Regions from separate parts of the Homo sapiens genome. Here all the other regions are reported to be linked to region 1. Evidence: microRNA targets listed by miRTarBase, many of them from high-throughput screens and not tested one by one. Region 1 holds a microRNA gene; each other region holds the end of a gene's coding sequence. Distances are from middle to middle.
The links. The annotated mature microRNA hsa-miR-3973 reads ACAAAGUACAGCAUUAGCCUUAG and lies in region 1 at 2,896-2,918, opposite strand. An mRNA with a match to its seed (bases 2 to 7 or 8) in the 3' UTR can be bound and repressed. Matches are read on the target gene's strand: a 7mer-m8 pairs with bases 2 to 8, a 7mer-A1 pairs with bases 2 to 7 and ends in A, and an 8mer does both.

Region 2: miRTarBase lists TMPO as a target of hsa-miR-3973. Seed matches in the 3' UTR shown: 7mer-m8 at 2,343-2,349.
Region 3: the mRNA of CCN1 is a reported target of hsa-miR-3973. Seed matches in the 3' UTR shown: 7mer-m8 at 1,368-1,374.
Region 4: miRTarBase lists B4GALNT3 as a target of hsa-miR-3973. Seed matches in the 3' UTR shown: 7mer-A1 at 753-759.
Region 5: the mRNA of RPS24 is a reported target of hsa-miR-3973. The part of its 3' UTR that is shown has no 7-base or 8-base seed match.
Region 6: the mRNA of HIPK3 is a reported target of hsa-miR-3973. Seed matches in the 3' UTR shown: 7mer-A1 at 4,543-4,549, 7mer-m8 at 3,028-3,034, 7mer-m8 at 2,957-2,963, 7mer-m8 at 1,331-1,337 and 7mer-A1 at 1,247-1,253.

The regions. Positions count from the first base shown.
Region 1 is chr11:36,007,839-36,013,098 of GRCh38, reverse strand. MIR3973 (microRNA 3973) reads right to left here and starts at 3,001; the gene lies at 2,895-3,001. All of the region lies in intron 1 of LDLRAD3 (low density lipoprotein receptor class A domain containing 3), which reads right to left.
Region 2 is chr12:98,546,897-98,552,156 of GRCh38, reverse strand. It overlaps TMPO (thymopoietin), which reads right to left. Exons shown (of 9, transcript NM_001032283.3): 9 at 1,806-4,584. The coding sequence ends at 4,299. Among named protein-coding and RNA genes, the nearest start is that of TMPO-AS1, 33 kb to the right of the region's middle.
Region 3 is chr1:85,581,884-85,587,143 of GRCh38, forward strand. It overlaps CCN1 (cellular communication network factor 1), which reads left to right. Exons shown (of 5, transcript NM_001554.5): 3 at 45-401; 4 at 533-741; 5 at 857-2,067. The coding sequence ends at 1,159. Among named protein-coding and RNA genes, the nearest start is that of CCN1, 3.8 kb to the left of the region's middle. RefSeq lists an enhancer at 15-536.
Region 4 is chr12:560,908-566,167 of GRCh38, forward strand. It overlaps B4GALNT3 (beta-1,4-N-acetyl-galactosaminyltransferase 3), which reads left to right. Exons shown (of 20, transcript NM_173593.4): 20 at 436-2,602. The coding sequence ends at 544. NINJ2 (ninjurin 2) reads right to left here. Exons shown (of 4, transcript NM_016533.6): 2 at 5,043-5,260; 3 at 4,310-4,494; 4 at 3,389-3,774. The coding sequence ends at 4,328. Among named protein-coding and RNA genes, the nearest start is that of NINJ2-AS1, 67 kb to the right of the region's middle. RefSeq lists enhancers at 1,842-2,343, 4,508-5,009, 5,010-5,260.
Region 5 is chr10:78,039,380-78,044,639 of GRCh38, forward strand. It overlaps RPS24 (ribosomal protein S24), which reads left to right. Exons shown (of 6, transcript NM_033022.4): 5 at 825-846; 6 at 1,236-1,318. The coding sequence ends at 827. Among named protein-coding and RNA genes, the nearest start is that of RPS24, 8.1 kb to the left of the region's middle. RefSeq lists enhancers at 10-521, 522-1,031, 1,352-1,853, 1,922-1,971, 3,252-3,361.
Region 6 is chr11:33,352,985-33,358,244 of GRCh38, reverse strand. HIPK3 (homeodomain interacting protein kinase 3) reads right to left here. Exons shown (of 17, transcript NM_005734.5): 17 at 1,222-5,153. The coding sequence ends at 4,677. Among named protein-coding and RNA genes, the nearest start is that of KIAA1549L, 20 kb to the left of the region's middle.

The sequences.
Region 1 (5,260 bases):
ATATTTCTCAGGTTGCCTGTACAAATAAGGAACAGCATTTCTATCTCTAAATATACCAAATATAATACCTTTGGGCAAGCTGATTTATACAAAATGGACATTTTTTATATTTCAAAATTAACGGTAACTTTAGAAGTATAATGGAAATAGAATTGAAACTGCATAAATTTCCAACCTCTGCTCCCAAACATCTGACTTTTTTCTTTTCAACTTTTCCATCCAGCTTTTTTCCAGTTTTAAAATTCCCAGAAGTTCACATCTTGAAATACAATAGTCCTCCCTTTTCTGCAGTTTCGTTTTTTGCAGTTTCAGTTACCCTCAGTCAATGGACTTCTGAAAATATTAATGGAAAATTCCAAAAATAAACCATTCATAAGTTCTGAATTGTGGTCCAATTCTGAGCGGTGTGATGAAATCTCGTGTCGTCCTGCTCTGTCCTGCCCAGGATATGAATCTTCCCTTTGTCCAGCATACACACACTGTCTACACTATCTGCCTATTAGTCACTTAAGAACGGTCTCAGTTATCAGATCAACTGCCTCTGTCTTGCAATGTTTGTGTTTCAGTAACCAATTTTATTTAATAATGGCCCCAAAGCACAAGAAGAGTGATGCTGGTAATTCAGGTATGCCAAAGAGAAGCTGTAAAGTGCTTCCTTTAAGTGAAAAGGTGAAAGTTCTCGACTTAGTAAGGAAAGGAAAAAAAACTTATGCTGAGGTTGCTAAGATGTACAGTGAGAAAAAATTTTCTATCTGTGAAATTGTGAAGAAGGAAAAAGAATTTGTGCTAGTTTTGCTGTCACACCTCAAACTGCAAAAGTTATAGCCAGAGTGTGTGATAAGTGCTTAGTTAGGATGGAAAGGCATTAAATTTGTAGGTGGAACACATGGACAGAAATAGGTTTCAGTTGACAGCAATTTGGTACTATATTCGGTTTCAGGCATCCACTGGGGGTCTTGAAATGTACCCCCCGAAGATAAGGGGAGACTACTATAGAATATATTAATCAGAATTCCTAACCCCTAGAGACTTTAGAATATAGAAGAACAACAATCTAAACTGATTAAAATCAATAGTAAGAAATCACTTTCGAAGAAAATAGCAAACTTCTATGACCGTACCTGCCTTCTTCCCCACAGTCATGCAGTTAGACTATGAAGTCAAACAGTCATGATGCTGGTGACAGGCCGCCACTCAGACTTCCCTTAGACGTGATGCCTGCATTCGTGGAGCACCCACTATGTGTTAGAGCCTGCACTGGTGCTTTCTGTTTGTCATTTAATCCACACTGCATCGGGTAGCTACTTATACCCATTTTCCAGATGAGGAAATTGAGGTTCAAGATGACAAGCCAGGTAATGAGAACTAGCATGCAAATCAGGCTCTAACTGGCTCGCTAAATCTCTTTCCAACTGACCTCTGCTATGTCCCCAAAATAGCAGAATAGACCTGTTGATGAAGAATACATAAGTTACAATTGCTTATGGTTCTCTCTCCACCCTTTCAAAGGTTATAATATCAGTATTATTGAGGTAGCAGAACTTTTGATACACAAATCCCAAATTAATTATACATCTGAAGTGTTGAAGGACCACCCAAATCTAGACTACAGCAATGACCACTGTGTTCTCACTTCTAAAATTCCTAGCCAGTGACCTCCTCAACAATGACATTTTTCACTGATTGGGGCCATGGAACAAGATATTTATATTTAATAGATACCCGCTGCCTATCGCATGCTCTGTTTTGTAGTAAGCACTCATTCAACTAACTGATTCATTCATTTACCCAAAAAGAAAGCATTAGACACCTACTATACTCAAGGTTGCAGGGAATACAAGACTTGAGCACATCAAAAACCTACTATTGAGCAGGAGAGAAGAAGTGTGCACCTAAAGAGCTATAAAATTAAAATTATTTTATAATTATAAAAGTTGGAAGTCATAAATGCCACAGAAGAAAGTAAGAAATGGAATGTAAGAATTACTAAGAGGGGCTGGGTGCGGTGGCTCACGCCTGTAATTGCAGCACTTTGGGAGGCCAAGGCAGGCAGATCACCTGAGGTTAGGAGTTCGAGACCAGCCTGACCAACATGGAGAAACCCCACCTCTACTAAAAATACAAAATCAGCCAGGCTTGGTGGTGCATGCCTGCAATCCCAGCTACTCAGGAGGCTGAGGCAGGAGAATTGCTTGAATCTCGGAAGCAGAGGTTGCAGTGAGCCAAGATCGCACCATCACACTCCAGCCTAGGCAACAAGAGCGAAACTCCATTTCAAAAAAAAAAGAATTTCTAAGGAGGGGGAAATTTATTCCAGGGGAAGCATCATGGAATGCTGCATGGAATAATTTCCACCCAGGCTGCTTTGCAGGTTGGGTATGATGCAGACCTCTATTCCAAATGAAACGCTGAGCTAAATGGAGGCATGAAAGCAAATGGTCATGGAGAGGAGGATATAAGGGTGGGAAAAGCTTTAAGTGCCAGACTATAGAACTTGGACTTAACTTTATACACAAGGAGAAGCCAACATCATCCGTTTTTGAGCAAGGGAGTGACATGAGATGAGTAATGCTTCAGGTAGGTTAACCTGGCAGCCCTATGTAGAAAGAGATGGGAAAGAAAAGTAATAAGAAAATCCAATTTGGAAGCTATTGGAAATTTTTAGGCATCCATTTGGGAATCAAAGAGTTGGGTCTATCTTCACTAATTCCAAAATATATTCTTCTTCTAATAAGAAATATTATGAAGGGCTGGGCAAACTTAAAGTAAATAAATCTATTTAGTCTCTTGACTATTTGCTGAAGGCAGAGACAACTCAAGTCATCCATCTCTGGCTTTGGAAAACAGCAGATGGTATTTTTGGCAGCAGATCCACTGTCCTAGTTATATGTTTTGCTAAGGCTAATGCTGTACTTTGTTTGCATTTCTTCTGCCTGCACCATTGGAGCAAGGGGCAAGCAATCCTAAAATGTAACAAGCAATACAGAGAGCTACCCTGGGCTTCAAATTTTAACACTCAGATACTCCAGACACAAACACAATAAAGTAGGTTATACTCTTCAGTCCCTTATTCTGATAGTATTTTTTGAGGCCTGAGCACTTTGTCAATAATTCTGACCAGTTTCCTTCAAATCTTCAAAACCCCAAAGACAACAAGCAAGATAAAAGCAAGGAGTAGAATCCGATCATGAGTGGCTATGTATACAAAGCTGGAGAATTCCTGATACTGGTTACAGATTTCTGGAAAACTTCTTCGTAAGAAAAATAAAACAATCTTTTTGAAAACTGTGTTATTTGCAGACCTGCCTTTTTGATGTGCTCTTTTCCATAATATGAATAATGGAAAAAAAATGTTGCAGGAAATGAAGTGACTCATAGAATTTTCTGCATGGATTGAATTTCTGCAACTTTCGGTAAGCAAATCAGCAACAGAACGAATGGCATTTGCATTTCAGCAACACCCAATCCACTTATAAGGGTGCATGACAGTGATTATAGTGGAGGTGGGAAACCCATTCTTTCCTAAAGAGTCTAATTTTATCTTCCCAATTCCACTTTACATCTTTCAGCATAAACCTCTGGCTGGGTGGAAATCCATTTCTATTCGGATAGAAACTAATTTTTCAGGTATGTAAGTGAAAAATAATACAGGACTGTCTTCTCCAATGCTATTCTTAGCCTTTTGTAAATCCAGGTGACCAGGATAGACAACCAGATCCTGCAAAGGGAGTTCGTCAAAGCCCTGCCTATGATGACTGCTCCCAGAGCAGGGGGTCTAAACTATGGTTTGGAAGCATTTGATTTAATACTATTAAAAGGTCTGTCTCAGAGCAAAAAAGGGAGTTTCCTGGGAAGCACTGCCAAGATAAGGAAATTAACTCTTCAGGAAAGTTCCAGGAAGAGAAAGGTAGAAGTAGCCACAGATATGAGTTGGGGAAAGGATGGACATTTCAGCAGTATGAAATCCATTTCACTGGATACCAGGAAACCAGGATAAAAGTGAAGGTGTGTACTTACTTGGGCCTTGATCTCAGAGTGTTGGAGAAGAGAGAAAAAAATACAAAGGAGGGAGATATCTAGCCGTGTCTCCATGTGGAGACAAAGGAAGGTAAGAGAATGGTCAATTAAAGGGAATAAAAAGACGATATATATTATTTTCATAACCAAAGCTGTAGGAGACTGCTATAATCTCCACAGTTGTAATGCTGCTGTAAAAACATGTTTTTAAAAATAAGGCCTCAGTGGAAATCGAAATCCAAGCTGGAAAGCCTACAAGGAAAACAAGGCAGTACTTCTTCCCTGAACAGCACAGTTTCCTGTGAATACACAGTGAATAAGAGCGGATTCATTTCTTAAGAAGACAAAACAAAGACCTCAGTTCTCTTGAATATGCTTATTAATATTTAGCCAGTTAAACATGGGCCTTTCCCAGTTGCAACTTGCCAGCCCATAAATATTTACTAGGAATTGACACAGGCACATACAGAGACAGATAAAAAATATATATATTCATTCTTTCTCACCCCATAGGACTGGAACACCCAAAGAATTGCCTGTGTATCGACAAACCCAATCTTGCAATAGGAGCATTTAAAGTTACATTTCTTGACCCCAACAAACTCCTGGGAGAAAGGATCCCTCTCCCCAGATTCTAAATTCCTCCTTATATTTTCTCAAGCCTTGAAGAGGTCCCAACACCAAATAGGAATGCTACCGTCTTCCATGAACCCTGGAGTTGGGATGGAGGAGGCTTTCCTTGAGGTACAACTGCACTCTCATCAAAGCACAATCTGTATCTAATCCACATTTTCAGGCCTCAGGTGCACATTCAAATGGCTTTTTGAAAAAATATAGGATTTTACCCAATTTGTTTACCCATTCTGCCTGGTTTGCGTCCCCAAGTGTTCTTTACAAATGACAAATAATATGCCCTCCTCACATAAAAATGGCCCTAATGATAACTACCATTTATTGGGTATTCTCCATGTGCCGGAGCCTTTACAAGCATCTAATATTTATAACAACTTTAATCAAAAGACTCATTTGCTCCCTTCCACAAAGGAGAAGAGGCCACTCAGGTAGGCTGAACAGTCCACCAGAGGTCACGTGGAGTAAACTGAGTGTCTGGGATTTCTACAAGGGTTGGGTCTGCCTAAACTTTATTTCATCTTCACTCAATTCTTTTATCTGGCCACAAAAACATAGCCATGGAAAAATCCAACCATCTCACACCCGCTTCCCAGCACCTGAACTACAAGCT
Region 2 (5,260 bases), not on the chromosome of region 1:
TAAATGTTGTCGATTCAACTAATGATTCCATAATTAGGAGAACTTAACAAAACACATGGAGACCCCTTGCACTCAAACCCTATGTCTGCTCCTCTACTTTCTCCCCAAATCTTTGGTGGAAAGGATATGTGAATCCCGAAAAGCTCTCAGTGACCATCAATTCAAGGTGACAGGCTGACCACATGCTTACAGCCTATTTCTACTGAGACTTGAATACTGATAAGGGAATAAAAAAGGGTTTAACACAATGACAAAGAGGTAGAGTGAGATAGCAAAAGATACTTCAAAAAGCTGCCTGGAAGATAAAAAAAAAACAAACAAAAACAAATTAGGCCAGGGGTGGTGGCTCACGCCTGTAATCCCAGCACTTTGGGAGGATCACTTGAGGTCAGGAGTTCAAGACCAGCCTGCCCAACATGGCGAAACCCCGTCTCTACTAAAAATACAAAAATTAGCTGGGCATGGCGGCGCACCTGTAGTACCAGCTACTCGGGAAGCTGAGACAGGAGAATCACTTGAACCCTGGAGGCAGAGGTTGCAGTGAGCCAAGATGGCGCCACTGCACTCCAGCCTGGGCGACAGAGCAAGACTCTGTCAAAAAAAAAAAAAAAAAAAAAAGATTAAGAAACAGAAAAATTAGCAAAATTAAATAAGGCTTAAATTTATTATTACTGTTGTTGTTTTGAAATGGAGTCTCACTCTGTCACCCAGGCTGGAGTGTTACCTCTGCCTCCCAGGTTCGGGTCATTCTTCTGCCTCAGCCTACCGAGTAGCTGGGATTGCAGGCACCCACCACCACACCTGGCTAATTTTTGTATTTTTAGTAGAGACTAAAAATTGTCTTGCCATGTTGGCCAGGCTGCTCTTGAACTCCTGACCTCAGGTGATCTGCCTGCCTCGGCCTCCCAAAGTTCTAGAATTGTAGGTGTGAGCCACCATACCTGGCCAGAAGATTTAAATAGCCACAGAGAAAGATTAAGTGAGACCTTGTCTCAAAGAAAACAAAAACAAAAACAAGAAAAACTAGGAGTGAGCTACTTTACCCAAAAGAACGCTTCAGAGGTTTGAAACTCAGAAGGCACCACCAAAGTTGTGAAAGGAGCAGGGCTGAACACAGAACTGGTTTAAAGCATGTAAACAGAGAATTGTTTGTTTTAGGTTCCCTCTGCCATATTATATGCAACCAGAGCCATCACTTCTCAGCTGTGTGCAAACATGAAGAAGCTTCCTAACACCTCTAACCATCAGTTTCCTCATTTGTAATGATATTACGAAAATGCCTACTCCATAGGATTATCGTGAGGATTGAGTGAATCAATACATATTAAGCACATAGAAAAGTACCTAGCACATGGTAAGCATGCAATAAAACTTGTTGTTTTAAGCCTTTGATGCGATTTGCCTTATAATTAATTATGGTGTCTATACTACCTTGAGAAACACTAATTTAAGTCAAATCACCTCTGGGGACACATGAATGAGGAAGACATAATGGCACTTTCATCTTGTGAGCACAGCTCCATGACGTATCACAGTGACACGGGCTTAGTCTCAAAGCAAGACTAACAATCATAAGGGTCATAGGTAAATACTAAAGACAGTAAAAGTGGTGGGAAAAAGGAACTAGGTGTGGGAGAGGTGCCTTGGAGCGCTTAATGTCATTCTGTGAGTACAGTAGCTACACATTGCTTACCTTTGAATAAACGAGAACCCGATTACAATAAGAAGTAAAACATATGAACAGACTGAAATAAAACACAATAATCCATAAATATCACATAAGAAATGTTATCCAGAAATCACAGTTTGTGCTATCTGAAAACCATTTATTGCAACGACAAAACTAGAGGTTAATTACTTTTTATTATTGAATTATATTGTAAAGTCTACATCTACAATTTAATCAGGAAGAAATGCTTTGCATTTACATCAAGGACACATTTATTCTAATGGAATAAAACAGACACACACAAAAGACCAAGTACATGTTTTTAAAAAATGACTACATGTTTCACCTGGTCCTATTTTTGCTATTTGGACCATACTTTTAAGTGAATTGATCTTACATACATGTTAAGTCTGATTTATCTCCCCACATTTTTAAACACTAAATGAAGCTTCTCACAATTTCTAATTATAAACAAAAGGCTGAAAACAGTATGGGAAACAAAGTTTCAAAACAAAGAAAAGTTGAGTAAAAGGTGCCCCCTCTATGGCTCATCTGAAAGAAACATTTTACTCAGAGAGGCAAACATTTCTGATCTAGGAGTAAGTTTCCCACTCACTTTGCAAGGACCCACTCATTCTGCAGAAAGACCTACAAGTCTTTCTGGTCTCAATTGCAAAGTACGTGAAAATGTGTATGAAAGATCTAAAAGCTAAATATTAGAATAAGGCTAATTGAAATCAAAATTGTGTGCTGGTCTAAATATACATCTTCGGCTTCTTCCTTTTTAGTAAGTATTTTTATTTCAGATGTATTTAAAAATAACTTACATTTTTAGTGTGCTTTATGGTCAATGACTGTAAAGTTGAAACTCAAATGAGTCAGTTTAAAATTTTTGTCTCATTTGATTCTATTGAAATTTTAATCACCTACTACTTTAATCAAGTTATTCATGAGGTAAGTTTCAGCTTAAAAAAAAAAATCATCCACAAAGATAACCATTTCAAGAGTACACAAAATCATAATGCCGGCCGGGTGCAGTGGATCACACCTGTAATCCCAGCACTTTGGGAAGCTGAGGTGGGCTGATCACTTGAGGTCAGGGGTTCGAGACCAGCCTGGCCAACATGGTGAAACCCCGTCTCTGCCGAGGCAGGAAAATTGCTTGAACCTGGGAGGCAGAGGTTGCATCGAGCCCAGATCGTGCCACTGCACTACAGTCTGGGTGACAAGAGTGAGACTCCATCTCATAAAAAATAAAAAAATAAAAAATAATCATAATGCCCACCTCTTAAGAGTATACAACTTTATTAACTACTGCTTATGATGTAATATAAAAGCAAGTACTTTTTGTACTTTTTTATTTTTTTTGAGATGGAGTCTTGCTCTGTCGCCAGGCTACAGTGCAGTGACGTAATCTCTGCTCACTGCAACCTCTGCCTCCTGGGTTCAAACGATTCTCCTGCCTCAGTCTCCCTAGTAGACAGGACTACAGGCGCACATCATCACGCCCAGCTAATTTTTTTGTATTTTTAGTAGAGACGGGGTTTCACCATGTTGGCCAGGATGGTCTTGATCTCTTGACCTCGTGATCCACCCGCCCTGGCCTCCCAAAGTGCTGGGATTACAGGCGTAAGCCACCGCGCCTGGCCCTTTTTGTACTTTCTAATCAAATTATGCTGGGAAATATAGGGCAAAAAAAGCTCGGCAAAATTTGTTTCTGGTAACAAGACAATGCAATAATGAATCCAAATGAAACATAAGACCAGTGTTTACAATTTCTAACTTCTAAACAAACATACACACACTTATCTAAAACATATTTTGGTAGCAAACTGGATGACTGAATAAATGTTTTGCTGTAAATAAAAAATACAAATTTCCAATTATAGCCTTATAGCTAGCTAAACAGCTTTTCAAAACATGTACAGCTAGCCAACAATTCTCTAAAATATGTATGTTACACTAAAAGATCTCTGCTAAAAATCTACTGTATGTAAATGGGTCTTACTGAAATAGGACTTTCATGATACTGTGTCTTAAAAAGTGAGTATGATAGGGCTACAACAACATTACTATTAATAAAGGTTACAGAAGAGATTATTGCTGTACTTTTCCTCATAAACACCATCAAACTTTGTTGCAGTTACAAAAAGTACAACCAAGTTACTTTTCCTCTTACTGAATTTCATTATGTTTCACATATTTGCAGTTTTTATTCAGCAGAGAATAATTCTTAAAATCTTTTCTGTAAGAATTCTAAGTATTTAAATGTGTAGCTTCACATTATACTACCATGTTTCACCCTTCGTTTCCCAAATACACAAAAAACATATACATTTTTTCAAAAATGAAATAAGATGCCCACATTAAAAAAATAAAGCCTACAAAAAGTTCCAGAGCTAAAAAAGATTATTCATATGGCACAAAGTGATCTCCTACTAGTCCAAAGTTCAAAAACATTTTAATGAAGTCCATTTATATATATTTTGTTTGCTTTTCAATGAAATACTACATTTATTGAGGCGAAATCACATTATTTTTAGTTCTTGGAGTCAACAAGTGTACACAAATGTTTTTCAACAGTTATTGAAAATAGGAGACCAAGTTGAACGTGCCAAAGAGATACCATTCAGTTGGATTTTCTAGGGTCAACATGAAGAAAATTAGAGAAGGGATTTACTTGGTTGGTTTCCATAGCTTGATAGACCAAAAACAAAAAAACTGCCACAACAACAAACAGCAAAATTTTTATCCATACGGGAATGGAGCGTCCCTTTTTTGTCTTTTCTGACTTGACATCTGCCAAGGGAACATACTTAGGAACATATTTAGATGAAAAAGACTCCTCCATCCTGAAATCACTGAGTTCTAATGGCCGGCCTGCAGCCCCTTTGATTGGTCTGCGGCAACTAGCACTGTTGGGAGTGAAAGGAGGAAAAGAAAAATAATTTTAGATAAAGGCATGATTTAGAGAAATAACATAAAATGTCATTGCCACTCCTAATTCCAAGCACATTCCCTGAGGTAACAGTAGAAAATTGATACATATAAAGCAGTGAGGTCAGTCAACCTATTTAAAACTTCTACATATTTTCTATTTTAAAAGTTAGATGGGCTGGGCATGGTGGCTCGCGCCTGCAATCCCAGCACTTTGGGAGGCCAAGGCGGGCAGATCACCTGAGGTCAGGAGTTCAAGACTAGCCTGGCCAACATGGTGAAACTCTGTCTCTACAAAAATACAAAAATTAGCCGGGCATGATGGTGGGTGCCTGTAATCCCAGCTACTCAGGAGGCTGAGGCAGGAGAATCGCTTGAACCCAGGAGGTGGAGGTTGTAGTGAGCCGAGATCACGCCACTGTACTCCAGCCTGGGCAACAGAGCAAAACTCCGTCTCAAAAAAAAAAAAAAAGTTCGATGCATCCTTTATTAGAAAAGAATATTCAGAACACTGATAAATAGTCACTAAACCTGCCTTCTTAAAGGCTCTTCAAAGCTCATGTTTAGGAGTAAAGAGGAAAAACAAAACAGTTTTGGCTGTGTTTCTTTCAGTTAAAAATTAAGATACATAAACACAGCCTTTTCAATTAGAAA
Region 3 (5,260 bases), not on the chromosome of region 1:
TAACTTTATCCCCTTCTACCTTTCTCTTTTGGTGATCTTTGCAGCTCAGTCAGAGGGCAGACCCTGTGAATATAACTCCAGAATCTACCAAAACGGGGAAAGTTTCCAGCCCAACTGTAAACATCAGTGCACATGTATTGATGGCGCCGTGGGCTGCATTCCTCTGTGTCCCCAAGAACTATCTCTCCCCAACTTGGGCTGTCCCAACCCTCGGCTGGTCAAAGTTACCGGGCAGTGCTGCGAGGAGTGGGTCTGTGACGAGGATAGTATCAAGGACCCCATGGAGGACCAGGACGGCCTCCTTGGCAAGGAGCTGGGATTCGATGCCTCCGAGGTGGAGTTGACGAGAAACAATGAATTGATTGCAGTTGGAAAAGGCAGCTCACTGAAGCGGCTCCCTGGTAAGTGGAGACTGAGCACTTCAGACACTGTACTGAGATGCATTTCTGGTCTAAATCTTTGTAGAAATGAGTGCTTGAGCCTGTTTGTGTCGGTATGCCTCTGAGAAGTCTTCCCTCTTATATGTCTCTAGTTTTTGGAATGGAGCCTCGCATCCTATACAACCCTTTACAAGGCCAGAAATGTATTGTTCAAACAACTTCATGGTCCCAGTGCTCAAAGACCTGTGGAACTGGTATCTCCACACGAGTTACCAATGACAACCCTGAGTGCCGCCTTGTGAAAGAAACCCGGATTTGTGAGGTGCGGCCTTGTGGACAGCCAGTGTACAGCAGCCTGAAAGTAAGTTCCTTCAGGGACGTGTAGACTGTTGCCTGGCAGGTGGGTGGGATGTGAACATCTTTTTGAAGAAAGAGAAATATCACCCCTAACTTTCCTTCTCTCCTTTCTCTTACAGAAGGGCAAGAAATGCAGCAAGACCAAGAAATCCCCCGAACCAGTCAGGTTTACTTACGCTGGATGTTTGAGTGTGAAGAAATACCGGCCCAAGTACTGCGGTTCCTGCGTGGACGGCCGATGCTGCACGCCCCAGCTGACCAGGACTGTGAAGATGCGGTTCCGCTGCGAAGATGGGGAGACATTTTCCAAGAACGTCATGATGATCCAGTCCTGCAAATGCAACTACAACTGCCCGCATGCCAATGAAGCAGCGTTTCCCTTCTACAGGCTGTTCAATGACATTCACAAATTTAGGGACTAAATGCTACCTGGGTTTCCAGGGCACACCTAGACAAACAAGGGAGAAGAGTGTCAGAATCAGAATCATGGAGAAAATGGGCGGGGGTGGTGTGGGTGATGGGACTCATTGTAGAAAGGAAGCCTTGCTCATTCTTGAGGAGCATTAAGGTATTTCGAAACTGCCAAGGGTGCTGGTGCGGATGGACACTAATGCAGCCACGATTGGAGAATACTTTGCTTCATAGTATTGGAGCACATGTTACTGCTTCATTTTGGAGCTTGTGGAGTTGATGACTTTCTGTTTTCTGTTTGTAAATTATTTGCTAAGCATATTTTCTCTAGGCTTTTTTCCTTTTGGGGTTCTACAGTCGTAAAAGAGATAATAAGATTAGTTGGACAGTTTAAAGCTTTTATTCGTCCTTTGACAAAAGTAAATGGGAGGGCATTCCATCCCTTCCTGAAGGGGGACACTCCATGAGTGTCTGTGAGAGGCAGCTATCTGCACTCTAAACTGCAAACAGAAATCAGGTGTTTTAAGACTGAATGTTTTATTTATCAAAATGTAGCTTTTGGGGAGGGAGGGGAAATGTAATACTGGAATAATTTGTAAATGATTTTAATTTTATATTCAGTGAAAAGATTTTATTTATGGAATTAACCATTTAATAAAGAAATATTTACCTAATATCTGAGTGTATGCCATTCGGTATTTTTAGAGGTGCTCCAAAGTCATTAGGAACAACCTAGCTCACGTACTCAATTATTCAAACAGGACTTATTGGGATACAGCAGTGAATTAAGCTATTAAAATAAGATAATGATTGCTTTTATACCTTCAGTAGAGAAAAGTCTTTGCATATAAAGTAATGTTTAAAAAACATGTATTGAACACGACATTGTATGAAGCACAATAAAGATTCTGAAGCTAAATTTGTGATTTAAGAAAACAGCGCTTCATGTTCATCAGAATATAAAGCCTAAGGGTCTCCATCACTCTGTGAGATGGCTATAATAATTTATTATTTTAATCACCAGGTTAGTGGGCATGCCACTTTAGTAGAGTAGAGAAACCCTTTAATGAAAAGGGGTAGTCCATAACTCAGGCTGCCCACATCCAGACCCATGGGCAAGATTGAATATAATTAATGTATTCTAAAGACTTGCTTGTTTATAACTTTATATTTTCCCAATACCGTTCCTAAAAATTAGAACTACTTAGAAATTTACCCTTGGCTGTTATGAGGAAAAATCTGAGTCTATAGGAGTCAGTTTGTTTTCACTAAATGAGCTTGAAGCATGACTTGTGTTAATCCTAATAAGCCGGTGATTAGGTAAACATGCTGTTAAATGCAAAGGAATGCAAGGAATTTCAACTACTTTTCCAATAGCGTGAGGGCCAAGCTACCCCATCCCCCTTTCCTTTTTATAATATACGTTATATTGATGGGGGAGGGAGCAGTTATATAGAGTTGGCTATTCAGAAGGTCAAAGGTCCAGAGCATTCCTAAAAGAAAGGGACCCAAATCATAGGTCTAGGAGAGGTTGAGAAGGCTGTGTCAATGTTTGTGAAAATGTCAGTAGTCTGTTTCAGAAGCATCTTCATCTTTAGAAAGCGCTGACAATAAACCTTTTATAGGGAGAAGTTTTCCTTTCATCATCACTGTTGGCTCCTGTTCAAATCCATAGTGAAATATTTCAGTCCGCACTTAGTTAAGAGAGTACTTGAGTTTTTAGGCAGAAGAGAAAGTGCTTTTAAAAGGAATGGAGGAGGACAGCTCCTGGGATCCTGAAGGGATTTTTCCAAGTAGATTAAATAAGATCCATACTTTAATGAAGACCCACAGAAAAATACTGCCTAAGAAATGGTTTTAAAGCCTTATGGAAATGCATAGAGGTTAATATAAATGCACTAGTAAAATCTATGGCCAAAAGCCTTCACTTCTGATTTTGACTTGCCTGAAATATTACAGCTTGTGCCTTCTGAATAGTCAGGTTTCTTGCCTGAGACATTCAAATGTTAAGGTATTTGAGAATTTAAACATCAGCTGGCCCAGTCGTGGATGCAGTTAAACTTGTCAGTGCAATGTAACGTGTGAAACATAATAAAGGTGTGAGGCTTTTGTGGTGCAATCTTGTTGAACAGACATCTAAATCCATAGGCAAGATTTACACATTCCCAAGCATCAACCCTGAAGTATTGCTCTCCAACACTGGAGTCCAACAAATTGCTTCTTATGCAGAGATCAAGGAGCAATATTTTACAGATCCTTTCAGTGTGCAGGGAAGTAGTATTTGTCCAAATAAGCTCAAATGTGAAACAGAACCTAGTATGGGAAAACACTGAATCTTTGGGTTATTAATTTCATCCTAGTAAATATAATGAGGGTGATTGAAAGTGCCAATTCCATTTACAATAAGTGTGTTCAATTAATAAAGAAGATGAATACAAGCAAATTATGTCTTTTGTTTAGCTATAGAAAAACCTGAAGAAATTAAAAGTAGTGGAGAATAAAATTATGATATTTAGAACACGTAAGTTTTACCTACATCCAGAATGGAGCTCTGCCCACTTTAAATATTGAGAAAACAAACCAAAAATTATGCATCTGCATATATGAAATAGAAGTTACATATAGAAATATTCATTATAATATATATGTACCTTCCCATGCACAGTAAAGACCTTGGGTTGTTCTTGCTTTTCAATCCAAAAGATCCTGGTGGTCTTGAGCTATTTTTTGGTAGAGATTTTAGAACTGAGAGAGTGATCTCAGAATCTTAGGCATTCCACGAATTTTAAGAAATACTCTATGGGACATTGAGCAGCACAGCAAGTAGTCTCACTATGACTATTTTTTCATATGAACATATGTGTTGTCTGCTCCACAAAGAGATGCAACTGAGTCAAAATTAGCAAAGCATATTTTAGAGTTATGTTTTCCAACAGAGGGAACAGACTTGGTTTGTTCACAACCTCTTCTTGCAGCCTTCTGGCACTACTTGAAAGTCAGTTGAGCAATAGCAGTGGTTCAGTATGACCACAGTACAGAGCAAAGCTATGCTCTGGGCAGAATGGCAGGTGATACAGTGGAAAGAATCCCATGGAATCATGTCTTTTAGCACCAGCTCTGCCATGAATTCACTAGGTGACTCTGGGCAAGTTTCTGTTTCACTCCCTCATGTTAAAGTAGGAAAATAGCTTTCAGCATTTTTGTCACCCCAAAAACCCTTTCTCATACACCCACTTCGGTACATTGGCTCTCATACCTTAAAACTTTTATCTCCTCAAGTAACCACATGTGTGAACTGAAAACTGCTCAAGGCTTTCTGTCATCAAATGCACTTGTTTCCATGAAGCGTTTGAAAATGTATTGTGGCTAGACCCCTTCCCCCCCCTTTACTTTCTAAAGCACCCTTGGTTAGAGGACACAGCAATTCCTGGATCTCAGAGTCTACAGGTCCATACTTTAACCTCACTGTATAGCCCTATCCAGGCCTCATTAACTCCTTGCCCTACACAACTGATGCTTTAAAACAAAGCATATTCTGAAACATGACAATGATCCATTTGTCCTACAAATAGATTAGATATAGCTGTGACTTTCTCCATTGGTGGTGGGCAATATTCATCCATGTAATCTTATAAACTACAATTAATAAATACTCAGATGCATTTGTTACTGCTTTGCTGTTTCCATATATTCTGTTCATATATTCTGAATCTACCCCTTTCTCATCTCCAGAGCAAACCTCTAGATGAGACCACCATCATCCCTTGTCTGAATTACCAGAATGGCCTCCTCATTTATAGCATATTGTATTTTCCAAAGGTGGCTGCAGCAATATCTCCCACTCCATGTGCCCTTCTGCAATGTGCCTCTGTTGCTCCCCCATTAATGGGGGGGTCTATTTCTCCACCCTCTTGGATGTGGGTGAGCTCTTGACCTGTGAATGTGGAGGAAGCAATGCAATGTGGTACAAGTTCCACATGCAGTACTGGCTAGGAGTTCCTCCATCTTTTCTCTTAGAAATGAGCTTCCATGTAAGAAGTACAACTACTCTGAGACCAGCAGACTGTGAGAAGCTGAAGCCACATGGATAGGCCTTAGAGAATGAGTTGCCA
Region 4 (5,260 bases), not on the chromosome of region 1:
GCCCTGCCTTCCTCCGTCTATGACGTGTGCCCTGGAGGCTGGGCGCCAGTTATGGGGCACTCAGAGTGTGCCAGGAGCCGTGCTGAGCCCTCAGCATCCATCCTTCTCGTCTTCCCCACCTCTGATGTGTATATAGTATGTCTACTCTAATATTAGATAGATAGAATTCTATATCACACATTATCCTCTCATTACACGTATGTGATAATCGTCCTCCTAGAGATGAGCAGACAGGCTCTGAAAGAAGGCGTGACATACCCAGTCATGCAGCTGGGATCCAAACCCAGGCTGCCTGGCTTCAAAGCCCACAGCCGTCCACTGCACCTGCCTTCCCTGCCCCGTGGGGAGCGAACAGAGGGTCTGTGGTCGATGGGGAGGGGCCCCCCAGCTGCCTTCTGTGCTTCTGTTGGCTCATCTGTGTTTCTCCTCCTCCAGGATACTCCAAGCGGGCCTGGACGTGGAGCGTCTCTCCCTCAGGAATTTCTTCCATCATTTCCATTCCAAGCGAGGCATGTGGAGCCGTCGCCAGATGAAGACGCTGTAGCCGGAGGGTGTCCGCGGGGCCCAGCACTCCCCGCTCTGGACTAGCAGTGGCTCCCCAGGGCCCTGCTACTGTTCAGGGATGGGGAGTGGGGTGACGGCTGGACCCCAAGAGGCCTCGAAGCTGACGGCCCACTCCACCTGGAGCTGTCCCCTCACAGAGGCAGGTTCCGGGGCTCCTGTCTCTGCCTCCTGGGCCTTCAGAAGGGAGGACTTTGAGAGAGAGGCCAGGAGGGACCACTTGCTCAGTCGAGAACGGGAAGAGCTCCTGAGAAGGACGGGTCAGGAAGGAGAGATCTGACTGAGCGACACCATCCTCATCCATGAAGGTGCACGCCCACATCCCCCAAGCGCTCCTCACGCCAAGCGCTGACCACCAGACCCTCTTCTAGTGGACATATTTTATTGGGGGGCGGGGATTTTAAAAACAGAAAACCGAAACTGCTGTCCAGAGCGGGGGTGAGGTTGTGCACTGAGGGACTGTCCCCACGTGCAGGCCTCCCGCCCACTCCTATGTCCCTTGGGCGTTGTCCCTGGCCGCGGGACTGGTCCCACGTGGGGCAGGTCTCTGCTCCACCCCAGGCTCGTGCCTTCCAGAGACACACATCTCCCAGTAGCCACCAAACAGCTGGCCACTGATTAGGGCATTAACTTCCTCCGGATGGCTCACGTCAGACCAGAAGCACAGAACGGGCTGTTTCTGGTGCTTGGGCATTGGGAGGTGGGGAGCTGGCGGGCAGGGGGCTTGCCACTCCCTGGCACTGGACATTGAGGCCTGCAGAACAGGCAGGGTGATGAAGGCAGGGGAGAGAAGCCCTTTCCCTTACCGGCGTGCCTGTGGGTAAGGCCTCCCGAGAGGACATGGAGAAGAGGTAAAGAGGATGTGGACATATCTGTCAATTTCCTTAGGCAAGAAGCGGGTGGGGGCTGGACAGAAAGGGACGAAAAGGGAAGTGGAAGCTGTGAGCCTCACAGTCCAGCTCCACTGCAGACCTGCCCTTCTGCAGGGAGAGCCCTGGCCACCCGGCCTTGAGTGGAAGAAGAGGAAAGGGTGTACGGGGGCAAAACCCTGGACAGGGAGCAGGATAAGAAGGGGGCGGGATGAGAGGTTTGGGGAGGTGAGGACATTGCCCTGAGATATCCCCTGGAGGCAGGGAGAGGAGTGGGGGCAGGAGGAACTGAAGAGGGGGGCAGTTTCAGGGAAAATAGCCCTTAGCCTTTTTAGTCGATGCCACCCTTTCTGTCACCTGGAGACCTTGTACTTCTCTTGCACTAATAACCCCGGTGCTTTTGTGGCTGGGGGTTTTTCTGTTGCTGCTGCTGCCTCCACCACTGCTGTGAATTCACCCATGGTGCATTGGACACTGGATCTTGAACTCCAGAGTCTGTTTAGGGAGGTGAGCACAGGGCTGGGGGAGGTGCGGCGGGGCCCAGAAGACCAGGCCACTGAGCCCGCGCTCCAGGCTGTGACGGTCCAAACCACGGCACTGGAGCTGCAGGGTCTGCCTAGTGGGCTCTGCATTCCCCGAGAGCACGAGTTTGGCACATGGGAGAATGGAGCCCGTGGAGAACCTTCTGGGGGGTCGGGGAGAATCCCTGCCTCCCTTTAAGGAATCATGAAGGACAGAGACTTTTGAGATTGTGGCTTAGGAAGGCCATACCTGCTCCCTGGGCTGTGGCTTTTTCTGGTCCCTGCTGAGGCCGACTGGCCCCTGGAGAAGGATGGTGGGGCATAGGCTAGGGCTGCAGTTGGCCAGTGGGGCTGCCAGTTTCTTTCTGGGACCACTCTCGTCCTCGGGCATTGCACTGGAAGGCTGGAACCAGCCCAAACTGCCCACCTGCTTCACTTCCAATGACTAGGAGCCAGCCCAGCCTCCTGCCCTGCCCACACCCCTGCGCCCTGGGCCAGTGCCTTGCGTTTGATGTTACCTCCACACCATCTGCCTTAAGAGGAAGGGCCGGGCAAGGCCCCTACTCCCTAGAGAAATGTCTTGGGTAGGAGAGGGTGTGGGATGGTGGGAGGGGAAGCATTAAATACAGCAACTTCTTAGAAAAAAAAAAAGGTGCTTGTCTTTTCCTGTTGCTCTTCACGGATGTAAAGGATTGGGCTGAGGGGCCCAGGTGGGCGTGCCAAGGACCCTCCCACACCACCCTCCACCCTTACCACAAGTGTGATGCCTGCTGTGTGTGAGATGGCCTTCTCTGCACTGCGGTTTACTCAGGAAGAAGACAACATTGTTCCTGTCTGAGCAGCTCACCGTGTAATAGACTAGGCATTTTCTGTTCAGCAGATTAATGGAGGTTGGTGGTTTTAGCCGAGGAAAGCTATGGATACGCTGGGTGGAGAAGGCTAGATATAGGGCCAGAACGGTTTGGTGAGCAGTGGAGAGAAGCCAACGAGTGGCTGCTTCTAAACTGGCAGACCTTCTAAAAATCATTTCTGTTTCTGAGTTGGCAATGCTTTGCTAATGCTTTACAGATTTACCTTCCTCGTTATATTTGGCCCAGGCAAAGATCAAAATGAGTTTGCAGTCCTTAAACACATGCCTAAGGGAAGCTGAGACTGAAAGCCAGAATAGCTTACAGCAGGTTCGTGGAGAAGATTGTGCATATGTGCATCCACCTGCAATGGACTAATCTACAGTTCATGGGGCAGATGACGATAAGCGCAAGACATCTGGGCCAGGAACATTGGCTCCGAGCAGAACCCACAGAGGAGGAAGTAATTTAAAAGCCTTCCCACCCTCCAGGTCTGGGGTTTGCTCTCTTGAGCCCTCTCCAAGGCACAGATGGAGACCAGCCTGGATGCCTGAGCCTGCAGGACTAGACAAGTAAGTGGACTCAAGAGTGGATTTGAAGAAACCTTTATAGATATAGATTCCATTTTACAAGAAGGGAAAATTGAGGCCTGGAGCAGAAGGAAGCAGTGGGGTAGAGTCAGAACCAGCATCCTTAAGCCGGGCAGACTTGGCCTTAGACAGACATGCCTTACTTAGGTCCAGCAGATGCTACCAGGAAGGTATGGCTGGCAGTACCTGCGTCTGAGCTCAGGACTTCAGACCAAGATGGAAGTCCCTTAGACCAATAACATAAAAATCACTTTTTAACTCAGGTGCTGTGGGTAGGGAGCAAGGGCAGCTATACTGTCCTTTCAGAAGCTCTCCTGGGCTGTGGAAAGTGCCCACGAGCCTGGCAGATCACGGAGGAAGGAGGCAGAAGTTCCAGGCCCAGAACCTGTTGAGGAAGCAGAGAAGAGGCAATGAGGATGGCAGGCCAGATCAATGCCCCTCAACCTTCAGCATGCCCAGGATGCACCTGGCCACGTTACTCATGCACGTGCCTGTAGCACGTGCTCGAGCAGAGCCTGAGATTCTGCATTTCCAGCAAGTTCCTGGGTGGTTTGTGGATGCTGCTGACCCATGGACCACAGTCAGTAGCAAGAGCTGCTAGACAATGGCAGGGAGAAATTCCCCATCTCCACCTTTCCTCTTGCCGGAGGGGCAGAGTCAACCACTAATGGCATCGCCTCCACCCTGTCCCAGACCGTGGGAAAACCTGAGCCTGAGAGCAGAGAGCCATTAACACAGCAGTGGGGCTTTGTGCAAGCCTCGCTGAGGCCAGGCTCTTGCAGATCCTCTCCTTGCTCTCGGAGCTACAGGCCTTCCCCCTTTGTTTGGCAAGGGATCTGTTTCTTGCCCCAAAGCCCCAGAGGAGAGAGAAGGGCCACCTGGGGAGTCCCTGGAGCTGGGGTTCCTCCATCCTCCCTCACCTGGGTCCCAGGCTGCATTCAGAGAGGATTCCTTGAGGCCCTGGCAGCCAGGAACCCTGTTTTATGTGCCCCGAAGGCTGTAATGAAAACATTGATGACCACAGTGAAGAAGACCAAGATGGTGGCTGCGTTGTTGAGCTGGTTGAGTCGCCACTGCTTTTCTACCTCATTCAGGTTCAGCCGTGCTGCAGGGAAGTGGAGTGGGGGGAAAGGGTCAGAGACGGGGCCACAGCACGGAGCTGCCCCCACAACACCCACCAGAGTTTGGAGAGAGGGGCCCTTCAGAAACCCATGTGGCAGAAATCAAGGGAGGTGGTCGTCATCGGGCTGAGATGCCTCTGCCCTCGCCAACCAGTACAATGGGGCACCCTAGTGTGCTTCATCCCACCAGGATTTGGGAACTTAAGCTGGGTCCTGTAAGCGTGGGGACGAGTGCTCATGGAGAAGCGGTGAGCGAGTGAGTGAGTTAGCAGTTAGCGAGGTGCTGGCGCAGTCATTCAGCAGGTACTGCGGAGGGTCTGCTCCATGGGATACCAGGAGACAGGACAGGGCGCCTGCCCTCGCGGGGTGGAAGTTGGTCTTTGGGCCTCTGTTAGCGGAGGGCTCACTGCAGGTCAGCGTGTGGTTGCAAAGCTGCCTGTGCCAATGCAGGGTGGCCCAGGGGACACGTGGGGCCTTTCTGCCAGCCACGGGTGCCGAGGCAGAAGGTCTGACTGCAGGCTGGGCTCCTCACCAATGACCACGAGCAGGACACCGATGACCACCTGCAGGAGCAGAGAGAGGCTGATGAGGGTGACCAGGGTGGTGTAGTAGTGAGAGGATGGTCCCTGCTCCAGCACCGCCTTCAGCCGCATGGCGTTGGACATGAACAGGGCCACGTCCAGCATGCTCTCCGCCACGCTCTTCTTGGTGGCGTAATGGTTCAGGTTGATGGGCTGGCTCCTGGGGTCG
Region 5 (5,260 bases), not on the chromosome of region 1:
CTACCTGTGGGGACCTGAGCCATCACTATTCCTGCTTCAAGTTACACTGGTGCCTCTCACTAGCACTGCTCTGAAAAGCCAGCTGGAAAAATCAATGCATTTGAGTACATAAATTCTTTGGCTCCAAAGAAATGCCATAGCAATATTGCTTTTAATTCAGTTTTGTTTAGATGTTAGAATTGGTATTTGTTCTTGCTTTTTGGTTGCGATGGAGTTATATACTAAGTTACTTATACTAAGGCATTAGTAGTCTCATATCTGAGGAGCAATTGTATTTTTAGTTCAGCTAAATTAATGCCTCTTTTTAAATACTAACTTGTACTACTTTTGTGGCTGTGAATGGTATCTTTTATTGAACTGAGGCAGCTTTTAAAAGACTTGCCTGATCATTTAGAGCACTCCCATTGAGGTTAAATTAGACTTGAATCTGTAATGATTCTCGTAACTGTTCCTGGTGTGTGTCCAGCACAATGTTGCTGGGCAGAGCAGAGGGGCAGAGGCTCAGGTATGTACTTCATTGACAAGTGGGCAAGGCCATCCTGGGTACCACATTGGCTTAATGATCTCTTCATTGTGAAGTCCGGCTACCTCGTTTGCATAAGAACTACAGTAATCAGGCAAGGCATTGTCAGAATTGGGAGGAATAAAATCAGTGAGTCTGGAAGGAGTGCTCTGTATACAATTGCAAAGAACAAAATGGTCATCTTTAAGGTACCTGATTGCATGCACTTAAATGCAGATTATTTTGGAGTTTGAAAAGGGACTATTAATGAAATCTTTCTTTTCCCTCCTTTCTCTTTTTCCCTTCCCCGCCACTGATTCAGTGAGCTGGAGATTGGATCACAGGTATAATTCAAGCTTTTCATGTAGTCATGTAGATCACTAGACTCCTTGGTGTACTGACGTAGCAATTTAAAAGCAGATCATGTGTAGTACATCTAGAAGTAGATTTACAAATATTCTGAAGAGTTGTAACCTTTTAAAATACTAACAGTGACATGGTTTTGTTTTTAAGGTTTAGCAATATTTAGCCCATTATTTTTGTTTTATTCTTAACTTGAATGTTTGTAAATTTTATTTCTTGATGCTTTCATTGTGTTATGATAACATCAAAATAACTTGATATTCTAGGTTACTAATAATTGTTGTGCATGAGTGTTACTACTTTTGGAATTGAAGACTTTAAAGAATTTTAAAGGCAGTTGTTGACTAAACTTCTTTCTCTTGATTCACAGCCGAAGGAGTAAAGGTGCTGCAATGATGTTAGCTGTGGCCACTGTGGATTTTTCGCAAGAACATTAATAAACTAAAAACTTCATGTGTCTGGTTGTTTGAAATGTATTTGCAGTTTCCTGGGACTGCTAGGAGGTTAGTCTGCTGATTTCAGTTGCTGTCCAAGTTCACATGCTCCATGAAGCATTCAGTGAAAACTTAATGTCATGGGGTGGTGTTTGTTTGCTGCTTGGTTTATAGCTTAGGTGGGTTCATCTGGGAGTCAAGCTTGTAAATGCTGTGTTAAGAACCATGTCCGCGGTGGACGCAGTGTAGTGGCTCACAGTCATCAGCACTTTTGGGAGGTTTGGGTGGGATGATTACACTTAAGCCCAGGAGCTCGAGGCTACAGTGAGGTGTTTTTTTTTTCGAGACAGGGTCTAGCTTTGTTACCTAGGCTGGTCTTGATTGAACTCGGGCTCAAGCGATCCTCCTACCTTGGCCACATAAAGTACTGGCATGAGCGACCACGTCTGGCTTAGAGTCTAAAAAGTACCATGTCTGGATAAACTGGAGAAATCTCAGGAAGCAGTAGAGAGCTGAAAGACTTGGTTGGGCATGAAGGGGACTCAGGAAAAGCAATACCGTGAAGGCAGAAGGGTTGAGGTTGCAGGAAGGAAGGGTAGTGGAATGTTTTGGAGAAAAGATGGTCACAGCCCCTGCATGGAGCACCTACAGACAGGAGGGCAGGGCTGAGAAGAGTTAAGTCATGGGGCTGGGCCTGCTGGCCAGGGGGTGGTTGGAGTTCTGTTTTCATATCTACAGAGGCTGTGTACTTCGGTTTGTGGGGCCTCTGGCCCTGTAGGTTCTCTTGCTAAGGAATCTGCTACTACTTTGCTAGGACCAGGAAATGGCTTACTAGTACAGAACGTGTGGAAGAATGGGGTCTTTGATGTGATTTGACATTTTTTGATGAACAGTGCATACCAGGCTGAAGGTAATGCTAGGGGCAGCAAAGGTTGGGGTTTGAGATGCAGTTTCCTGTGACTGAGCTGGAGTGTGGAAGCAGAGAAGGCACCCTGTGAGCAGCTTGCAGAGGCAAGGTGGTGAGGATCCTGACAGTGCTGCAGGGATGGGATGGGATGGGATGGGACAGGACGTGGAGCTGGGGGTGGTTGCTAAGTTGATGCAGGGAGAGTGGAAGGAAGCAATTGAGAACTGAAGGGTAGGAAATAGTTTCTGATGTGAAGAAAAAGGGCATAGCTGCAGAGAGCCTGAATGATTGAAGGTTGGCATCAAAGTCACGAAGTGGGGAGGCTTTTCTGTTCAGCTGTGCTCAGGGCAGAAGTTGTAGTCTTTCAGCCAGTAGCCTTGGGAAGGGAGGTGGGATGAAACTCAGGCTTGGCCTATTTTTCCAGAGGATCCACTTGGGTTGTGATATTATAGAAAATGTGGCAGTCTTGCTGTGAGCCTTGTTAGGCATAACATTTGGAAACTTGGCAAATTTTACGTAAAGGTCTGGATTTCCAGCCTCTTGAAATACCAGAAGCAGCAGTAGTAGCCCACCTTCCTGTTTGATAACAATTGGCAGGGCTCCAGGCTGGCTGCATCTGTTGGGACAGGTATTCTCTGGTCTCCACAGCCTTTGCTCCTACGGCCAGCTAACACCCTCCTCTACCTGCCCTCTGGTCTTCTGTCCCTGCTGCCTGCTTCTCTTCCATCTAGTCCATCCAAGTGTTTTTTGGGGAAGTCACCTGGTACCTTGTTAGGGTTAATTTGTCTTTTAAATTGGGCTCCCAAGGGTATCTGCTAGCTACCCTGGCTCACAAGGCTATTTTGAGGCTGAGGATGTAACAACTGTGAAAACAGTTTGGAAACTAGTGCTAAGCAATTGTTTGTCAGGAAGCAGGGACTTGTGGGAACTCAAACTGTGGACAGATTCAGCACATTGTAGGCCCTCACAGTAACCAGGCTACCCTGTGCTGTCAGCAGGCTTTGGAAGAGCCTCCATAAAATGCAAACTTGACTTTACTAAGCTGAATCAATATTGAGGGAGCACATCCCTTCCTTCAGCTTGTCACTGATGGGAAGCTGTGGCTTAGAGAGAGCAGGGATCTTTGAAGAGTGATGAGAAACTCAGCTAGAGGTGGTTCTGGGAAGGTACCTGCAGTGAATATTTGGGGTGCTGCTTTTTAGCTTTTCCTAGCACCACAACCATGAGTTCTGTTTGTAGCTGGATGTGCCTATGTAATCAGGCAGCTTTCAACTCTGCACTCTTCCTTTCTTCCCTGGCAAGTTGCTTATTTTAGGCTGCCCTTAAAGACAGCATCTTACATGGTGCTCTCATGGAGCCGAAACAGGTGCTGTCCTAAACTCTGAACAACGATCTCCATTAATCTGCGCGCGCACACACATACACACATATTTTTTTTGAGATGGAGTCTCACTGTCACCCAGGCTGGAGTGCAGTGGCAGAATCTTGGCTCACTGCAAGCTCTGCCTCACGGGTTCACGCCATTCTCCTGCCTCAGCCTCCCAAGTAGCTGGGACTACAGGTGCCCGCCACCATGCCCGGGTAATTTTTTGTATTTTTAGTAGAGATGGGGTTTCACCATGTTAGCCAGGATGGTCTCGATCTCCTGACCTTGTGATCCGCCTGCCTTGGCCTCCCAAAGTGCTGGGATTACAGGTGTGAGCCACCGTGCCCGGCCTAATCTGCATGTTAACTCCAAGAAGCATGTCTTCCTGGACCCACGCTGGAAAGGGTGTAGAGCAGTTAAGCATCTTACCAGTGTCTCACCCATGAAGTGGTGGGGATGGGATTGGAATGCAGTCATCTGACTCCAAAACACTGCATTTTTTCAGGCACTCCAGTATTAAGCTACTTTGCACTGTGCATATAATGGTATATAAAACTCATGACTGCCAGCAGGGTGCCAGTTGCCATGGGTTTATTGAACAAGTGTTAGATGGCTAGCCAAATTCCCAATTTACTGACCACCTGCTGTGTCCCTGTTCTGCAAGTTGGGGATAAAGAAGCTGTTCTGTCTTGAAAGCTCTGAGGTAGTTAATGACGATCCCATGATCTGGCTTCTGTTCCTTTCTGTGAAGTAGCAGATAGTGTATGACTGTGACGTGATAGAAATTGAGAGCCAAGAAGATCAGTGCAGGGAGGCTGGGTCTTGGAAGGCTTCCAGGAGACATACAGCAGTCCCCACCTATCTAGTTTCAGTTGCTGTCGGTCAACTGCAGTCTGGAAAATTATCATGGCTAAATGGTCTGGGATCACCCAAAAGTGATGATCCTCTTGAAGTGTCATCAGAAGGTCAATAGTAGCCTAACACGTCACCATGCCTACGTCATTTACCTCCCTCTCCCTTCCACATAGGCATTTTATCTCCCATCAAGAATGTGAATACATGTACGTATTCAGAGGAAAAGAGTTCATGCAGCCTACTACAGTATAATTATTAATATCTTACTCCCTAAATTATGAACTTTAATTATGTATATATAGCAACAAACTTGGTGTAGATAGGGTTTGCGGTTTCAGGCATCCACTGGGGGTCTAAGAACGTTTGCCCCATGGATAAGGGAGGATTACTGTAACACCAGCAGTGGCAAGAGACATGATCTGATTTGGATGCACAGGAGAAAGTTCTCATTTGAGGCCATGAAAAATAGGAAAGAAAGCAGGGAGATGGGAGCAGGCAGTGTGGGACAAGGTGAGACCAGTCATTCTGCAAGGGGAAGAGAGGATGACACTGGGGAGGTGGGAGCAGAGTGGGTAGGTAGGCATTCTCTTGAATCAACAAGATGGAAGGCCCTACATGACTGATGCCTTTGAGCAGAGTTTTGCACAATGCATTTCTGGTGGGAGATACTCCATTTCAAAAATAGTCTTCAGGTTGGCTGCTAGAGCACAGAAGTATGACACCTGACTCATTTGTGCTGGCAGAGAGGCTCTCCTGGGTTTTAGAGCTTTGTGAACACACCTCCATACATTAATCCAACTGTCCTTCCCCATCCACTCACCCTTGAACTTCCC
Region 6 (5,260 bases), 2.7 Mb from region 1:
GTTTCAGAGAAAAAAAATTTATATTCCTAGATCTATTTAAATAGCTGAATGCTTCTTAGTATTTTTTTCAAGAGGCTAATTTACTTTCAAGTAAATTGCAAAATCTGAATTTCATCTCTATGTACGATCAGTGCTTTGACCTAAATGAAAATGTTCATGTTATTTTGAAAAACTCACCCTCAAAAGAATGACTAAAACAAAAGAAACAAAAAATAATGTGTTAGTGAGGACATAAAGCAACTAGAACTCTCATACATTGCTAATAAGTGTACATTAACTACTTTGGAATAGTGTTTGGCAGTATCTGTATACACCCTATGTCCTAGTAATGCACGTCTACATATATACCCAAAGGAAATGCATGCATATGTTCACCAAGAGATATGGACAAAACATTCATGGCAGCCCTATTCATAATAGCCAGGAGGTAGAAACTATTCAGATGTCAAATGTCCATCAACAAAATAGTTCTGTATACACACAAAGGATTACTATACAGCAATGAGTATAAATGAACTACACACAACATGGATGTATCTTATAAATGTTTAACAAAAAATAGCCAGATGCCAAAGAATGCATATATGTTATACTTCAATTAAACATTGATAGGGGAAGGCAGAAATTGAAAATACGTATTCTCACTATTGTGTTCTGGGGGAGTGCTCCCCTAGAAACTTTCCAACTGAGGTTCCTTGAAAGTTAGATCCTTGAATTATGAGGTGTTGGTATTTTAGGATGTAAGCTGGCCTACTACAATCACATTCTTTCGAAGTCATATGTTTTAAGTATTAAAGATACATGTGAATTCCCTATTCATCCACACATATTGAACAGAAATTATTTCTCTCAAAAAATATTTGCGGAAACTTAATATTGAAGGAAAATGGGACAGGGTCATCTTATGGTTGCAGGTAGTCCGGGTACACTGCCTCAGACTTCGGTTTTAAAAGAACTGATAGAAAGTAGATTAGTTATGGTTTGATATCCTGGTGTGTATCTCAGATTCCAACTCATTGACAATGTGACTTTGTGCAAGTTCCCTAAACATTCTGCAGCTATGCCCTCATTTGTGTAACAAAGATAATAATACCTATCTCACAAGGTGGCTTTGAGAGTTAAATAAGATGATGTAAGTTATTAATAGATACTCAATATTGTTAACCTCTCCCTTCCCTACCCTGTAAGGAGTATTGGGGTGGAAAAAAAGTCAACAAGCTGTTTGCTGCAATATATATATTTTAATTCAAAGTGAATCGACAGTAATACACCATAAATTCTTATTTTGACACTCACCAAAATAGTCACCTGGAAAACCCGCTTTTTGTGACAAAGTACAGAAGGCTTGGTCACATTTAAATCACTGAGAACTAGAGAGAAATACTATCGCAAACCGTAATAGACATTACATCCATAAAATTTTCCCAGTCCTTATTGTAATATTGCACAGTGCAATTGCTACATGGCAAACTAGTGTAGCATAGGAGTAAAAGCAAAAACAAATAAACCAAAGAAAGAAAGCCACAAGTCTAAAATTGTTAAACAATTAACAGTTCAAACTTAGTAATCAAATCTGTATCATTGGATTCATTAAAACAAATCTTCCTACACCTTGCAGTGTATGATTTAACTTTTACTTAACACAGTCCAAGTTTAAAATTAGCAGATTTTAAAAATGAAAATGTTTTGCTAATACAGTAACATATTTAATTAAACACGCTGGAGGAAAAAAAAAACAACTAAATATCAGGATATTTGATTTAAAAAACATTTTGCAAATTAAAATAGTATGCAAATATGCAACTTGGAAATCATGCAGTGTTTTATTTAAGAAAGCATTAAAACCGAAGAAAACTGGTCAAAATGGTTTTTAAAAGGTATAAATCCAGATTACTTTGTCAATATGCTAAATTAAGAATTTAGCAGAATTTTGAAATTTATTTTAAAATACATTAAAATGCCCATGATTGCAATTAAAGAGCAGTGTAGTTAACTGGGATATACCTTTATCAAACATTAATACTGTATTATGAAAATGTTGAAGTTTACCATTTATGTCAATTTAACAAGACTGCTTTAAGTCTTGGAAATTAAAGACAAAAAATACAACATTTCAGGGTAGTAAACATGGCCCTAAACAAAAAGAAAACTCTGTCAGTTTTGTACCTGTTGTGATACAATCAATCCTTTGCACTTGGTGTTTCTGAAACAATGTGTTGCCAGCATTGATTCTTTCCTAAGAAGTAAGCAGATCCTAATAATCTGCTGGAACATATAAATAAAATTAGAAGGCTGTGGAGGGCAGCAAATTTACTTAAATAGTGACCCCATAAATGTGTCATCTGTAAATAATCTTTTAAATTAATCTTAGGCTACTCCTTTTTAAACATTTAATTTTTTATATATATATATTTCTATTTGTATAAAATGCATAGAATTAATTACTAAAAACACTGAAACTTGTGGGGAAAATTAAGTCCTTCATTTTCAGTGTGACTAAAAATGTACTGCTGGTTTTTACTTTATGATCTAATACTGTAATTTTTAAAATCAATTTCAGGCACATTTATTTCATTGATGATTATTAAATAAAACACTGCTTGTGTTAATGGAGTGAAGAAAACTTATCCATTATTAGCTTATTGTGAACGCTGTACTAGAGCTGTACTAGTGGTATACAATTCATTTATCAAAGAAACGCTGTAAATCCAAAACATCTAGAGTTTTACACTCCAATGCTTTGTACTGTTTATTCCAGTAAATGCTGTAAGATTATATTCCAGATTTTTAAGGAAAAAAGTTAAGTCAAGCCTGCAAGATACAGCTTTCTCAAGTGTCTACAATGCCAGTATGAAAATAAAAAATTAAGTTACACTGATACATCCAAGTTTTTTTAATATGCAGTGATGAGCACAAACATTAATAGAGATAAAATACTGATGCAAATAACACACCCCAAAGTAACAAATGCAATTATTTTCCACCATTTACAATACAGTAGTTACAATGACACTCCAAACAGAAAAGCAAAGTAAAAAATCAAAACCCCAATTTCTATTCATGTAATTAGACTTATACAGAAATTAGAAGGCTAAATAACAACTAGTTAATCACCTAATTTCACAGCTATCTGAAGTGGCAATCGTTATATAGCAGCTTATCTATGATACATTCAAGATAAATGATACAATTTATTACTTGCCTGTAAGCTAAAACACAGCCTCAATTTAATACCTTTCCTTAAATTCCACCTTTACACTACAATATACTTGAGGTCTATGCAAAAAGTAGCTACCTTTATATAGGAAATGGATGATTAAGTCTTTGGTGCTGTAAAAGCAACTTCATTTAAACAGACATAACCACTACCATCACCACCACCCAAAAAAGAAAAAAATGTCGGGGAAGGGGGGAACTCAACACACTTCCTAGAAAGAAAAAAAAGCATGTAATTTCTGTCCCTGACGGAATGTATTAAATAAGCAAACATCACCAACAAGCAAAACAAGTACTGCAATGTAAAAATACTTAAAAAAAAAAAAAACCCTCTCACATGCATAAATCAAAAATTGCACACAAAGAACTCACATCTTTTCAAGCTTCAATAGTAAAAGTTCTGCTACTATTTATTAAATACTGCATGGTTTGCCCAAGCTAAGATAAAACCACATCATGAATCAATGAGCATTTTGCATTTTATTATCTACCCAAAGTCATGCCTACTGTACCTCTAAACATTTTATTAAGTCCAATTATACAGCAAACACTCTCAAAATAAACTTAGATTGTATTGCAGTTTCACTTAACAGTATATAAAATGCTGTGCTGTGACAGTTATCAACTATCCATTAGATACTGAATCAATTTTTCTTAAGCACTACTAACTGCTTGCTTTTCTTGAAGCTAGATCATTCTGAAAAATCAGACAGCAGAATTCAGCTATAGCAAACATGCTGCCCTCTTAATAAGGAAAAAAACAGCTACTACCTGAAATCATACCACACAAAAACAAAAATGAACATTACGCTATCAAAAGGAAACTAAATAGTAGGTCTGAATTTTAAGTGCTGCAGTCCTCAACATTTATATATAGGTAATAACATTAACAACCTCAAATATTTAAGGCACTATGTGTAGGAACGGTTTACAATGCAGCTGAGATTATTAGAACAACATTTAAGAGCAAAGTCTAGGCAACATTTTGCCCATGCAAAAGACACATGCAAATGTAAAGAACAATAGCTCAATTTCTTAGGTAAGTGACCCAACATTTATACACTAAGACACGGATAATACAATTCACTTGTATGCTGTAATTCTGACATATGTGCATCTGTTGCTCTAAGTCTGTACACAGAATGGCTTCCCAAATGTAGACGTGTCTTGCACTAGTTAGAAGGCAATTTATAAAAAATAGCAGGAGCAAAACTGGACTTCTGCTCCCATAAGTCACCTGTCTAGAGTTACTACATAAGAAGATAACATGACCAAAGACAAGTTATACCAAATGTGCAAAACACATCAAAAGTGAGTTTTTAAAGCTCAAAGTTGTTTAAATTGCACCCAAGTCTACATGATTCAAAAATAATTTTCTTGTGCCATGGCTAATATTAAATACCATGTTTTTATTTTTAATCAAATGTTTGTATCATTGAGCTTCCCCAATATACTGTTTTTCACATATATGGATACTGGCTGAGTTTTGTTGGACTCAGTGGAAATCCAGTATATGCAGGTGATGCTGCAATGTAAGAATGTGGTGGGAAGATTGGTTTGTACTGAGTCTGATGAATGGTTGGGGATGGTAACAGACGGGGATTTAAGCCCACTGGGACTTGGTGAACTATGCCACTGGGATGGGAGATATTATAAGTTGGATGCTGTAACATAGGTCTTGAGGTACACGGAGAGGCTAACAGGTGGGCCACTGGTGCAGCACTACTGAGGGTGGCTGATGATGGGTATGGAAGTAGAGTAGGCTGTCCTCCGAGGTGTGTATTTCCAGCCAGGTGGGCATGCACTGCTGTGTGATTGGGACTTCCATGAGAAAGAGTGAATGGATTACTGGTAACACTAGTAGGAATATAAGCTTGCTGTCTTCTGTGCCCAAAGTTTCCATTCCACTCTTGATGCCCAGATCCAAAGTGCTGAACCTATCCACAAAGAAAAAAAAAAAATGACTGAATAACATACCTTAAAAGATAAAAGGAAAGAAAGAAAGGGAAATTACAATATACCCTTTGTGATTGATAACTCATAG